Regions from separate parts of the Homo sapiens genome. Here region 2 is linked to region 1. The links come from fine-mapping of genetic effects on gene expression. Tissue or cell type: monocytes. Region 1 holds a variant in brackets; the other region holds the start of a gene. All regions are shown on one strand. Distances are from middle to middle.

The links. PIP is the estimated chance that this variant, and not a neighbour inherited with it, causes the effect.
Region 2: it holds the start of PRR5L, and the variant in region 1 is fine-mapped to the expression of PRR5L in monocytes (TOPMed, PIP above 0.99). The same link has a PIP of 0.9 or more in monocytes after Pam3CSK4, monocytes after R848, neutrophils and whole blood.

The regions. Positions count from the first base shown.
Region 1 is chr11:36,388,323-36,396,587 of GRCh38, forward strand. The region is part of intron 1 of PRR5L (proline rich 5 like); the gene reads left to right. Among named protein-coding and RNA genes, the nearest start is that of PRR5L, 96 kb to the left of the region's middle. The variant T/A (reference allele first, on the strand shown) is at 4,062.
Region 2 is chr11:36,294,398-36,300,488 of GRCh38, forward strand. PRR5L (proline rich 5 like) reads left to right here and starts at 1,891. Exons shown (of 9, transcript NM_001160167.2): 1 at 1,891-2,041.

The DNA.
Region 1 (8,265 bases):
TAACAGCTGGGTGACTTTGAAGAAATCATATGACCTTTATTTGTTGTCTTCCTTTTGGGGAAAGGAGGTTAGGGGAGTCACTATTGCCTTTACATTTATTTATTTGAAGAAGTAAGGCATTTTCATGTTTCTGAATTCAAAAAGTCCAAAAGGGCTTATAGAGAAAAGACTTCCCTACTGTGTCGCTGCTACCCAGCTCCTTGCCCTAGGGGAAACCAGTGTTATCTGTTGCTGGTTTGCCCTTCCAGAGACATTTTACGCACATGCAGTGAAAAGGGTAAATGCTCTTTTTAATCCTTTTTACATAGATGGTAGCATAATGTACACGTGGCTCTGTGTTTAGCCTTTCTTTCATTCAAGGTCGGCTCTTTCTTTCTTTTTTTTTTTTTTTTTTGAGACGGAGTCTCGCTCTGTCGCCCAGGCTGGAATGCAGTGGCGCGATCTCGGCTCACTGCAAGCTCCGCCTCCCGGATTCACGCCATTCTCCTGCCTCAGCCTCCGGAGTAGCTGGGACTACAGGCGCCCGCCACCAAGCCCGGCTGATTTTTTTGTATTTTTAGTAGAGACGGGGTTTCACCGTGTTAGCTAGGATGGTCTGGATCTCCTGACCTCGTGATCTGCCTGCCTCGGCCTCCCAAAGTGCTGGGATTACAGGCGTAAGCCACCACGATCGGCTCAAGGTCGGCTCTTTCTTAGAGCTGCATCACCTTCCAGTATATGGGACACCATAGTTTACATATGGCCAGTTCCCTGTTGGTGAGCACTTATTTCCAGCTCATTGTTGTTATAAAGAAGGCTGCAGTAAAAACCCATGTTACATAAGCCACTTGACGTGCCTTGAATAAAATTCTTGGAAATACATTTGTTGGTCAGAGGGTATGGCCTTTGTCACTTCGGTAGATCTTGTCACATTTCCTTCCACAGCAGTCAATTCAGACTGCTCTCCCTCCAGCCATGCGTTCAAGTGCCTGTCTCCCTCAACCCCACCACCCATCACCTTGCAAAGCCTAAGAGGGTTTTGTGAAGAACACAATGTTGTATAAAAATATTAATACTAACTATAGCTTTTTGCGCCCCTACTCAGGGCGAGGCCGTGATCTAGGTTATCTCATTTTCATCTTAACAACGTGCACATAAGCATTACAACCATTTGACAGACAAGGACACTGAAATTCAGAGCCTATGAGGAACATACGCAGGTCATCCAGCTAATAAGCTGTAGAGGCTGGATTTGAAGCCAAGTTAGTCAGATTTCAGTACCATGGTGTTTACCCATGGTGAAGCCCCATGTATTTTTTTTTTTTTTTTTGGTAGAGTTTTGCTCTTGTCACCCAGGCTGGAGTGCAATGGCACGACCTCGGCTCACTGCAACCTCCGCCTTCTGGGTTCAAGCAATTCTCCTGCCTCAGCCCCCTGAGTAGCTGGGATTACAGGCGCCCGCCACCATACCTGGCTAGTTTTGTATTTTTGGTAGAGACGGGGGTTTCGCCATGTTGGCCAGGCTGGTCTCGAACTCCTGAGCTCAGGTGATCCACCCGCCTTGGCCTCCCAAAATGCCCATGTAATTTTAAATGTTGATGTTCTGAGCCGACACCTGCTTATGGTTCCTGTCTCTCAGCAATGATGCCTCACACACAGCTGGCTCATTTACTCATTCAGAGAATATCTGTGGAATTCCTGCTTCACTAGGCCCTGTGCTAAGCCCTGGGGATGTACCTGAGAACATGACAGACAGTGCCTGCCCTTATGGGCCTCACAAACCTATAACAAATAATTCTGTAGTCATTTATTAAGGCAGATTATGACAAGACGACAAAGGAGGTGGGGAGGGTGCTCTCTGGGGTGGTGGAACCTAATCAGGGGTGAGGAGAAAGGAGGGTGTCTCTGAGCAAGTGAAGGTGGGCTATAAAGGGGGTGCAGGTTTGAACCTGGAGAGTTGGGTGGGAAATATTTCACATAGAGGCCACAGCACATGGAAGGGTCCTGAGGTGGGGCAGAGCAGGTGCTGGTGGAAGACATGAAGGCAGGCCAATGAGCAGACTTCAGAGTGGTGAGAAGTGAGCCTGTGAGGATGGAGTTTGTGAATTTATTCTAAGACTTGTGGGGAACAGTTGAAGGCATCGCAGCAAAGAGTGACATAAGCGTTGTGGGCTATGGACTGTTGGGTTCTAGTTCCAGCATCGTTTCTCATGAGATGTGTTACCTGAGACAAGTTAAACACTCTGTACCTCCATTTGCCTTTCTGTAAGCTGGGGCTGGTAATAGCACCTGCCTTCTGGTGGTTGTAAGATCAGACACAGGTGCTTCCAAACAGGTGCTTTCATGTAGTTTTGAGTGCCATATGAGGTATGAAATAAATGAGGCATTTTAACCCAGTAATCATGAATAAATTTATTTTCTCCAAATGTGATGCACTCCGATATTTTCTATTCCATTTCACTAAAAGTCAAGACCCTCTAAGTTCATTTTTAAAATGCTGAGATAATACATGTCAAGTGCCCGCCTCACAGTTGGCAGTCAGTAAATGGTGCTATCATGATCATCAAGGTTGTCATTAGAAAGACCATTCTGACTGCAATTAGAGAATGGATCAGTTGAGTTTGACCGATCATTATCTAAATCCTGGTGGTGTGGAAGGACATTGGGTCATTCCTGTGTTCATGGTCCAGGGAAGGATTTGCACGCTGGGCTTTCTGACTGCAGAAGCTTCCGAGGGTTGTGTGTAAAAGAGGCCATCTCTCTTGTTTCCGTGGTAACTAGTTTCTCCTTGTTTTCCAGGCAGGCACATCAGATGGCATGGCTGTTTTCTTTGACTTCTTTGTTACTTACACTCAGAATGGCTTTTTCCTGGAAGCCTCAGAGTTATTATAAGCCACCCACTTCTTTATTTTAAGTTGTTGGGCCATGATTCTACTTCCCTTTTCAGAGTCAAAGGTTGGAGCCCTAGTGGAATTCATTTGCATTTTCCACTAAGTGCAGCATCTTCCTCTACCCACTGCCCCAGCAGGCAGGGCTGTGCCCCATCTCCATGCCCTGGCGTGGCAGCTGTGAGGAGAAAGTGAGATGACACATTCTTTTTCTCCTAGAAACACATCTTGGAAGTTTTTGATGAAACTCATATAAGCTGAGTGTTAGCAAGGCCTGTGATACCTCCCAGTAACCCTGTAACTGCCACCGAATTTCCCGGACCCAGGGCCTGGGCTTTCCAGATAACTGAAGTTAACCCTTTCAGCACCAAAACTTTTAAGTTGCTTTTGAAGGGGATTTTTCTTAATGTAAATGGCATTGGTCCTTCCGAAAGAAATATGGACCAAAATTCTAGTTTCTCTAACTTGGAGACATTGGGCATAGAATATTTCTTTTAATTTTTAATTTTTGTGGGTACTTAGTGTGTATATTTATGGGGTACATGAGATATTTTGGTACAGGCATGCAATGCATAATAATCACATCAGGGTAAATGGGGTATCCATCACTTCAAGCATTTCTCCTTTCTTTGTGTTACAAACATTCCAATTATATTCTTAGTTATTTTAAAATATAGTTGACTGTAGTCACCCTATTGTGCTATCACGTACAAGATCTTGTTCATTTTACCTAACTATATTTTTTTACCCATTTAACATCCCCCCTTCCTCCCACCACAACTACCCCTTCCAAGTCTCTAGTAACCATCATTTTCCTGTCTCCGTGAGTTCAATCATTTTAATTTTTAGCTACCACAAATAAATGAGAACATGTGAAGTCTGTTGTTCTGTGGCTGGCTTATTTCACTTAACATAATGATATCCAGTTCCACCCATGTTGTTGCAAATGACAGGATCTCATTCTTTTTTATGGATGAAGAGTACTCCATTATGTACATGTACCACATTTTCTTCATCCATTCGTCTGTTGATGGACACTTAGATTGCATACAGATTTTGGCTATTTTGAATAGTGCTGCAATAAACATGGGAGTGCAGATATCTCCTTTGTATTCTGATTTCCTTTCTTTTGGGTATATACTCAGCAGTGAGATTGCTGAATCATATGGTAGCCCTATTTTTTGTTTTTTGAGG[T/A]ACCTCCAAACTGTTCTCTATAGTGGTTGCACTAATTTACATTCCCACCAACAGTATATGAAGGTTCCCTTTTCTTCACATCCTCACCGGCATTTGCTATTGCCTGTCTTTTGCATAAAAGCCATTTTAATTAGGGGGAGATAATATCTCATTGTAGTTTTGATTTGCATTTCTCTGATGATCAATGATGTATTAGTCCATTTTCACACTGCTGTAAAGAACTACCTGAGACTGGGTAATTTATAAAGCAGAGTTTTAATTGACTCACAGTTCCGCATGGCTAGGGAGGCCTCAGGAAACTTACAATCATGGGGGAAGGCAAAGGGAAAGCATAGTGACAGGAGAGAGAGACAGAGAGCAAGGCTGGAACTGCCACACACTTTAAAACCATCAGATCTCATGAGAACTCACTCACTTTCATGAGAACAGCATGGAGGAAACTGCCTCCATGATCCAATCACCTCCTACCAGGTCCCTCTCCTGACACATGGGGATTATAATTCAACATGAGATTTGGGTGGGGACACAGAGCCAAACCACATCAAATGATGTTGCACATCTTTTCATATACCTGTTTGCCATTTGTAGGTCTTCTTTTGAGAAATGTCTATTCAGGTATTTTGGCCATTTTAAAATCAGATTATTATATTTCTTTCCTATAGAGTTGTTTGAGCTTCTTATATGTTCTGGTTGTTAATCCCTTGTCAGAAGGATAGTTTGCAAATATTTTCTCCCATTCTGTGGGTTGTCTCTTCACCTTGTTGATTGGTATCTTTTGCTGGGCAGAAGCTTTTTAGCTCAATGTGATCTCATTTGTCCATTTTTGCTTTGGTTTCCTGTGCTTGTGGGGTATTACTCAAGAAATCTTTGCCCAGTCCAATGTCCTGGAGAGTTTCCCTAATGCTTTCTTTTAGTAGTTTCATAGTATAAGGTCTTAGGTTTAAGTCTTTAACCTATTTTGGTTTGATTTTTATATATAAGATAGGGGTCTAGTTTCATTCTTCTGCATATGAATATCCAGTTTTCCCAGCACCATTTATTAAAGAGACTGTCCTTTCCTCAGTGTATGTTCTTGGCACCTTTGTCAAAAATTAGTTCACTCTAAATGTATGGATTTGTTTCTAGGTTCTCTATTCTGCTCCACTAATCTGTGTGTCTGTTTTTTATGCCAGTACTATGCTGTTTTGGTTACTACAGCTCTGTAGTATAATTTGAAGTCAGGTAATGTGATTCCTCCAGTTTTGTTCTTTTTGCTCTGGAGACTTTGGCAATTCTGGGTCTTTCATGGTTTCATATAAATTTTAGGATGTTTTTTCTATTTCTGTGAAGAATGTCATTAGTATTTTGATTGGAATTGCATTCAATCTGTAGACTGCTTTAGATAGTATGGACATTTTAACAATATCGATTCTTTCAATCAGTGAACATGGAATGTCTTTCCATTTTTGTGTGTGTGTCCTAGAAGAGGCAATTCGGACATAAAGAGAAACATCAAGGGCATGAGTGCACAGAGGAAAGACCATGTGACGGCATGGCTACAAGGCAGCCATCTGTAAACCAAGGAGAGAGACCCCAAAGGAAATCAACCCTGCTGACACCTTGATCGTGGACTTCTAGCCTCCAGAACTGTAAGAAAACAAATTTCTGTTGTGTAAGCCATGCAGCCTGCTGTATTTTGTAATAGCAGTTTGAACGGGCTAATACAGGGGTAGTACTAATGGAGGCAATAAAAGAAACCATAGGTAGCATTTATCAAGCACTTGCTGTGTTCAAGGAGTATTCTAAGCCCTACTTGAGTCATCTCATCCAATATCTTGCAAATCCTAAATCACCTGCTCAATGCCCCACAGGAAGTGGTGACACCAGCCTGACTCGGGTGCCTTTTCTCTCAGCCTCCACTGCACCTGTGTCTAGCACCTATACAGTTCCAGGAACCATGCAAAGTACTTCATAGACAATCTTTCTGGTCATCACAGCTCTCCAAGGTAACTCTTCCTATTCTCACTTTTCAGATGTAGAAACTGCAGCTCAGAGATGTCCAAGGTCACACTGTGAGTTTATTGGTTTCTTGTGGCTGCTATAACAAATGACCACAGCCTTCATGGCTTCAAACAACAGAAATTTATTCTTTCATGGTTCTGGAGGCCATAAGTGCAGAATTAAGGTGGGGCAGGGCTGTATTCCCTCTAGGGGGGAATCTGCTTCTTTTCTCTTTCAGCTCCTGGTGGCTGCATTACTCCAGTTCCTGCGTCTGTCTCCATATCACCTTCTTCTCTATGCGTGTCTGTGTCTTCTCCTCTTCTGTCTCTAGTAACTTCTGCATCCCCTTTATAAGGACACATGTGATTGCGTTTATGGCCCACCTGGATAATCTGGGACCAGCTTCTCTTCTCAAAATTCTTATCTGAATTGCATCTTTTGCCATATAAGATAATATTCACAGGTTTTGGTGACAAGTGTATGCATCTTTGTGGGGGGTGGGGAGATGTTTTTCTGCCTACCACAGTGAGTGAATGGCAAAGTGACCACTGATTTTAGGGTTTATCTGCCCCCAGAGCTCTGAGTGATACACATTTGTGGCTGTACATCCTTCAGAGCTATAAGCATTATACTTCTCAACATCTTTTCTGCAATGCTATTTCTAGGCTCTGGTGGGGGTGGGTATTGGAGTCATAACTAAGAATTTCTGGACCCTTTGATTCAGAAGTTCCATTGCTGAGAAGGCACCTTACAAACATGGTCATGTCATCCCGAAGACCCACAGATTCGCTCATTCTTTACAGTAACCACAAAAGGGGAAACTCCCTAAATATCTACCCATAGGGGACTGGTTAAATAAAATGTAATATCTCCTAAATGGAATAGTCAAGCTACCATTAAACATAATAAAGTAGATCAATATGTAGTGATATGGGAAGATGGCCATGACGTGTTATTAGAAGGAAAGAAAAACATTACTCATTCTTAGGATATTAATAAGAATGTGTGTGTACACATGTGTGCAGCTATTAACAATTAAATAAAATTAAAATTCAGTTCCTCAGTTGCACTAGCCACATTTCAAGTTCTCAATAGCCATATATGGCTAGTGGCTACCATATTGGACAGCACAAATACGGAACATTTCTGTCATCTTGAAGTTCTACAGGATAGAGCTGCTCTATGCTAAGTGGCTAGAAAGAGGCCTTTCACTATGTTTGTTATAGAGTTATGTGAATGCTTATGTTTGTTATAATAAATGACCAAGTATGCTATTATCAGAAAAATAGGGGCACATAGAGTTTCCAAGGTAACATTCTATTTCTTAAGTAGGTACTAGTTCATCATTATTTATTTATTAGTTATTTTTTTTAATAGAAACAGGGTTTTGCTTCGTTGCCTAGGGTGGAGTGCAGTGACATGATCACAGCTCACTGTAACCTTGAACTCCTGGGCCCAAGCGATCATCCTGCCTTAGCCTCCTCAGTAGCTAAGAATATGGGCAAACACTACCATGCCTGAATAATTTATTTTTATTTTTATTTTTTGTAGAGACAGGGTCTCACTACATTTCCCAGGCTGGTCTCAACCTCCTGGGCTCAAGCAGTCCGCCCGCCTCAGCCTCCCAAAGTGCTGGGATTATAGGCGTGGGCCACTATGCCTGGCCTATTATTATTATTTAAAATGTATGTTTGCGTGTGTATAAACTTTTAAAGTATGTTTCATAATGAAAATATTTTGAAATATATAGGAAAAAAGAAAAAAGGAATCTCCTGGCAGGCTCAACAGTGAGCCAGGCGTGAGTCTGGGACACTTCCGGCCGGGGCTGAAGCCCTGACCTGACAGCTTTCCAAGCTTGGCCAAGTCAGGCGCCTGCTCAGGCCTCAGTTTCCTAATTTGTGACAGACTGTCTGCTCCATCTGCCTTACAGGACTGAGGTAAGACTTAGAAGCACACCATGTGTAGAAAAACACTTTCAAACTGAGGAACTTGCTACACAGAGATGTAGGGTCAGTAAATAAGGTCATGAGTTATTAAAGGGCTAAGGAGGCAAGCCTGGGTGCACTGTGATGGGGATGGCGGCTCAGAGGACTTGTCTGCTCCTCAGTGGAGTATTTCCAGACGCTACTGCGTCACCAGAAGCAGAGGGAGCTGCTGTTGTATTCCCACTGCTATCATGGCTTGGCAATTTAGAAATAACTACGACAACATGATTTTATTTATT
Region 2 (6,091 bases), 95 kb before region 1:
GAGATGAGGGTGGGTTGCAGGGGGAAAGGGCTGATCAATCTTTTTGACTTTATGCCCCCTTTGTGGCTTTGACGTGGCCTGATCAGCTCACCAGTCGTCTTAGTCCATATGGGCTAATATAACAAAATACCATAAACTGGGTGGCTTTATCAACAACAGAAATGTGTTGCTCATAGTTCTGGAGGCTGGGAAGTCCAAGACCAAGGCATTGGCAGATTCTATGTTTGATGAGGACGGTTTCCTGGTTCACAGATGGTGTCTTCTCACTGTGTCCTCAAATGGTGGCTGTGGGCAAGGGAGCTCTCTTGGGCCTCTTTATAAGGGCACTAATCCCATTCATGAGGGCTCCACACTCATGACCTAATCACCCCCCATAGGTCCCACCTCCAAATACCATCACCTGGGGGTGAAGATTTCAGCATATGAATTTGTGGGGGACGCATACACTCAGACCGTAGCGCAAGTTGGGGACAAAAGCTCTGAGTGTCAGCAGGGTTGCACTGGCTTGGAAATGCTGGAAATCTGGAAATTTCCAGATCAGGCATCACAAACTGCATGATCTAGGGCTCACATTGCATTAACAATGTTGTGTTTGGTCCACAGTGTTTCAAAATTGGAAAACTCGACATAAAAAATCCAGCCTTCTGGCTTTTCTTTAAAAATGTGCAGGCCCAACCATGCTGTTTCCACCTTTCTGCATTGCAGTATTTGGCTGAGGCTGAGCCCTGGCTGCCCTCTGAAGACTGGTGTGAGCTTTCAAATCCCCACAGTTCCCGCCACACACTGTTGCATCACAGTGGGCCCTCTCCACACATTTGTCACCTGTCTCATACTTGAGAATATTTATTAGTGCCCAATTCCTTCAGGGACCTAACAGGGTGAACTTAGGCCATAGTAGGTAACAGGGCTAAATACAGACACTTGGGATCCTGGCTTTCCAGCCATCCCCATACCATCTCCTCATGAGTACAAGCAAGTTTCAGGTGTAATGTGGGCATCTAATTTGTGATTTGTGGTTCTTGATCACTTTTATGGGCCAGCCACTGTTCTAAGAGTTTTGCATATATTAATTCATTTAATCCTCCTAGGAACCCAATCATAATCCCGGTTTACAGATGGGAAAACTAACACCCAGAGAAAACACTTGCTCACAGTCCATGGGTAATAGTTGCAGAGTCAGAATTTGAAGTCAGGAGCGAATGAGGTCATTTTGCAAGGTTGCTCATGACCTAGTGTCTGGTTCATTATGGGGGTTCAGTGGGTGCAAGCTTTATAATATTCATCTAGTCTTGCCAACTGCTGCTAACGTGCTGCATGGCTGAGGTTTAGTCCCAGCCAGATGTCCCATCACAAAAGTTAGGCATTGAAGTGGATGACATTTGTGTTTAGAGAAATGATATGTCTCATTCTTTTCAGCTCTAACTTGGGGTAAGTTTCTGAAAGCAAGTAAGAGAAAAGGAGAGGGACATTTGTGATCTCTCATGTATAGAAGACTAACAAAGAGGCAGGTGGTCACACCTGAAGGCACGTCCCCTGACCCTTATTACATAATGCCATGGGCTAAATGTCCAAAATTCCTCTCCCAGCTCTGATTGGCCTGGCTACTATGATGAGTGAAGTCCACCAGGGAAGACACTGTGGCCTCGTTTCTCATCCTCCTGTCCCCAGGAGTAACACAGAAGCAGCTAGTAACACAACAGCATTGTCCTCACATACACAGGCCTGCTTTGTTTCCCCACCACACAGAGCAGCCGCTGTAACAATGGCCCCGAATGACACTTTACCCTCCTTTCTCCAATGTTGCACTTGTTTTTTTAGTCTGGAATGGGCTAAACAATGATTTCCTGCAGGGGGTATCAGCTTTTTATATTTTCTGCCTGCTTCTCTGTCAGTCTTCAGGCCCCAGGTCAGTGAGTGGCAAGCCAGGCCCAGAGATCTCTGCGCCCGTTGGAACATCCCCTTCTCGGGAGGCTGGAAGGCCATGGTCATTCACCTCTCCCCAGCAAGGTGGGACCTGCCCTGGAAGAAGAAACCAGACCAGGTAACACAAGAGAGACAATGAGAGCTTGGGGCTAGGGGGTGGGGTTGCAGGGGATGGCTGAGTATCCAGCCCAAGGAGGATGGGTTTCTGGCTTCAAGACATCCGATTTTCTTGAAAGCCACCATCTGCTGTTAAATAAATAATGAAAAGCAACAGAGGTCAAGTTCAGCAGCCTCCCAGTTAGAAAAATACCCTCTGTCTGTCTGGCCCTGTTCAGTGCCTCTGATATCTCTGGGTGACCAGGGTCTTCATGGCCCATGTAGATTTACTGAGGTGGCTGTTGCCTTAATAATAGCTGCTAGTACTAAGCTCTTTCTCTATGTATTGCATATGTATACCTATTACTGTATGTCTCTCATTGAATGAATAGTAATGATAGCAAACCCTTATACAACATGCCTCAGATTCTTGCTTCTTTCAAACCCAGGGAGTCGGGTTCTAGAATCTGCGCTTTTCGTCATCATGCCCCTTGTAAAGCATTTTTTTTTACAACATCCTGCTAATAAACCAAGGTCATCACAATATTTCACTTTGAGAGGCAATGATATATGATGATAGCTATGTGTATTGTGAGTCCTTTGCCCTGTGCCAGGCAGCATTCTAACTGTTTTGCAGCTATTTCATCAGATAGATACTTTATGATCTCTATTTTATGGATGAGGAAATTGAAGTACGGATAATTTAAGTCATTCACCCGGGGTCACACAGTTGTTAAATGGCAGAGCCTGGATTTGAATTCAGTTTTCTCTTAAGTAGTATGGGAATCTTAGACCCGCCCAGCCCTGCTGGTCTGGAGTTATTCTGCTTCTCTAGGTCATGGTGTATAGAGGGTGACATTCAGTTTCTGGCTTCATAGAACATCTGCACCCAAGTTGACAGCTTAAGGAATTTTTTCGTTTGTTTATTTTAAATGATTTTTCTATTGGCATCAGCTTTTGTCTTGCTTGAAGAAGATGGAATTGCTCAATGACGACAGTGAAGGAATTTGAAAGGGTAAGAATTGCTCAATGAGTGGTATCTCTTTTTTGGCCAGAGACCAGGCTAAGTTGCCTCATATGTAAGAGAACATACGTCAAATACACAGGACTCATGGTATATTATGGAAGCAAACTTTATTTTTGCCTATCATTGTCCCTAATTTTTTTCAGCAGGTCCTCCCTCTTCCCTTGCCCTGGGATGAAAATTAAGGTAGGTCCACAACTCTTATGGGCCCCCTTCAGGAATCAAAAGTTCTTAAGTCGCTTTTAGTTCCAGCACAGCCTCATTCAGCAATTGGGATGTCCAGTCCCAGGGAATCAGCCAGATCTTTGAATTTGGTTCCCAGTGGAGACTTTTCTCCCTCCTCCAGTGGGGCCTGCAGCTTGGAAAGGGGGTCTGTGGTTGGCTTCTCATTTCCCACGTTAAGCTTCCATCCTTCTCTCCTCTGGCTTACTGATGATTCTGACTCCTGGCAGGGGGAAGGGGAAAAGAGAAGAGGCAGGAAAGGAGCTGGAAGTCCGTACTTGGTTAATGCTGTGGCAAGCTGGCATTTCAGTGGCAGGTTCTGGTGGGTGTGTAAACCTAGTTCTTTCTCTCTAGGCACAATCTTGTGGATACTTCAGAGAGCACCATTATTTCTCATCTTTGGGGATCTCTGAGTTGCTGGTCCCTTGAAGCTGGTTGCCTAATAAGACTCCTTCCTTAGTTCCCTGGCATCTAAGCAGTGCCGTATTAGTTTGCTGGGACTGCCATGACAAAATATCACAGACTGAGGGGCTTAAACCAGCAGTCCCCAATTTTTTTGGTACCAGAGACCAGTTTTGTAGATGACACTTTTTTCCACAGACCAGGGTAGGGATGGTTTCAGGATGATTCAAGTGCATTACATTTATTGAGAACCTTATTTATATTATTATTACATTGTAATATATAATGAAATAATTACACAATTCACCACAGTGTAGAATCAGTGGGAGCCCTAAACTTGTTTTCCTCCAATTAGACAGTCCCATATGGGGGTGATGGGAACCAGTGACAGATCATCAGGCATTAGATTCTCATAAGGAGCATGCAAACTAGACCCCTCACATGCGCAGTTCACAATAGGGTTTGTGCTCCTATGAGAATCTAATGCTGCTGCTGATCTGACAGGAGGTGGAGCTCAGGTGGTAATGTGAATGATTGGGAGCAGCTGTAAATATGGATGAAGCTTCGTGCTCTCTCTGTCCCTGCTGTGTGGCCTGGTTCCTAACAGACCACAGACCAGTACTGGTCCATGGCCCGGGAGTTGGGGGCCCCGGGCTTAAACAACAGAACTTAATTTTCTCCCAGTTCTGGAGGTTAAAAGTCCAAGATCAAGGTGTTGGAAGGTTTGTTTTCTCCTGAGGTCTCTGTCCTTGGCTTGTGGATGGCCACCTTCTCACTGAGTTCTCACATGGTCTTTCCTCTGTGTGTGCATTCCTGGTGTCTCTTGGCATGTGCAAATGTCCTCTTCTTATAAGGACAGCAGTCAGAGAGGATTAAGGCCTACCCTAAGGGGTTCATTTTAACTTAATCACATTTTTAAAGGTCCTGCTTCTAAATGCAGTCACATTCTAAGGTCCTGGGGGTTAGGGCTTCATCATATAAATTTTGGGAGGATAGTTGAGGCCACAACAAGTGCTGTCAGCTTTTCTCTGAAGGTAAATTTCCATTCCTCCTGGTGGTCCTTGTCAGAAGGACCTACACATCCCAGAGGTTGGCCACAGTACATCTCTGGCTTATGGAAAATGCTCGTTTCATTATCCCAGGAAATCCAAAGCTACCACGTTCTCTCCACTCCAGCTGATCACTCCATCTCTCTTGTATTTTGGGATTCACAGACATGATTCAGACATCAGCCCTCAGTGACAGTCAACCTCCAGGGACACAGCATCTTGGAGGCCAATCTTGGAGGGTGGGTAGTGGGCAATTGGGACTTGGAGTGCTCCTATTGCTTTCTCCAAAATTCCTCCTCTACACCACCAACTGTTCTTCTCACCCAGCTTTCTTTGTGGGCTGAAGATGGTCAGTTAAGAGGGAAACCAGTTTCGTGCCACTTCTTTTGTCAGCCCTGCATGATGGCCTCAGTGTCACAGCTCACTTTGAAACATGTCTTTTGTCCTTGGCAATACCTGAACTGAGACCATAGTCATTTTTACATCCTGCTACACAAATAGCATCTCATTTAGTTTTCATAAAGAACCCTAGGAGTTCTTCTGCATATGGAAGAGGAATCTGGAGCTCAGAAAGGTTAACGAATTCACCCAAAAGAGATTATTCAGCGAGTGGCGGGGAGGGGAGTAGAGATTCAAGCTTTAACCCACTTCATTATTTACTTCTCTGGGCCTTCATCATCCAGGCTTCTTAGAGCTTTTACCTACTGGAGTTTGGTCTGTGCTGCTAAAATGTTTTCTTCTTAGCAGAAAACTATAAAGGTAAACAACAACAACAACAACAACGACAAACACTTCATCGCTGCTTGCACCACTTGTGATGCAGGGGCTGGCAACAGGAGTGACAGGTGCATCAGGAGCTTTCTTAAGTATGTTGTGAGATGAGCTCTGTGTACCCAGGAAAGTCTTTGACTGCTTGAAAGTCCTCCATCCCTGCCCCACTATAATTTAATCAGCAGAATAATGAAGTACAAGTGAAATATCTTTTTTTTTTGTAGAAATGCATAAAAGCAATTCTGTTAGTCTGTTTTGTGTTGCTGTAAAGGAATACCTGAGACTGGGTAATTTTTAAAGAAAAGAGGTTTATTTGGCTCACGTTTCTGCAGGCTGTACAAGCATGGCACTTGCATCTGCTCAGCTTTTGGTGAGGCCTCAGGGAGTTTTACTCATGGCAGAAGGTGAGGGGGGAGCATGTCACACGGTGAGAAAGGGTGCAAGAGAGTGCCAGGCTCTTTTTAAATGACCAGCTTTCTTGTGAACTTACAGGGTAAGAACTCACTCCATTATCACCAGGGCAGCACCAAGTCATTCATGAAAGATCTGCCCCCGTGACCCAAACATGTCCCACTAGACCCCACCTCCAATGCTGGCAATCTCA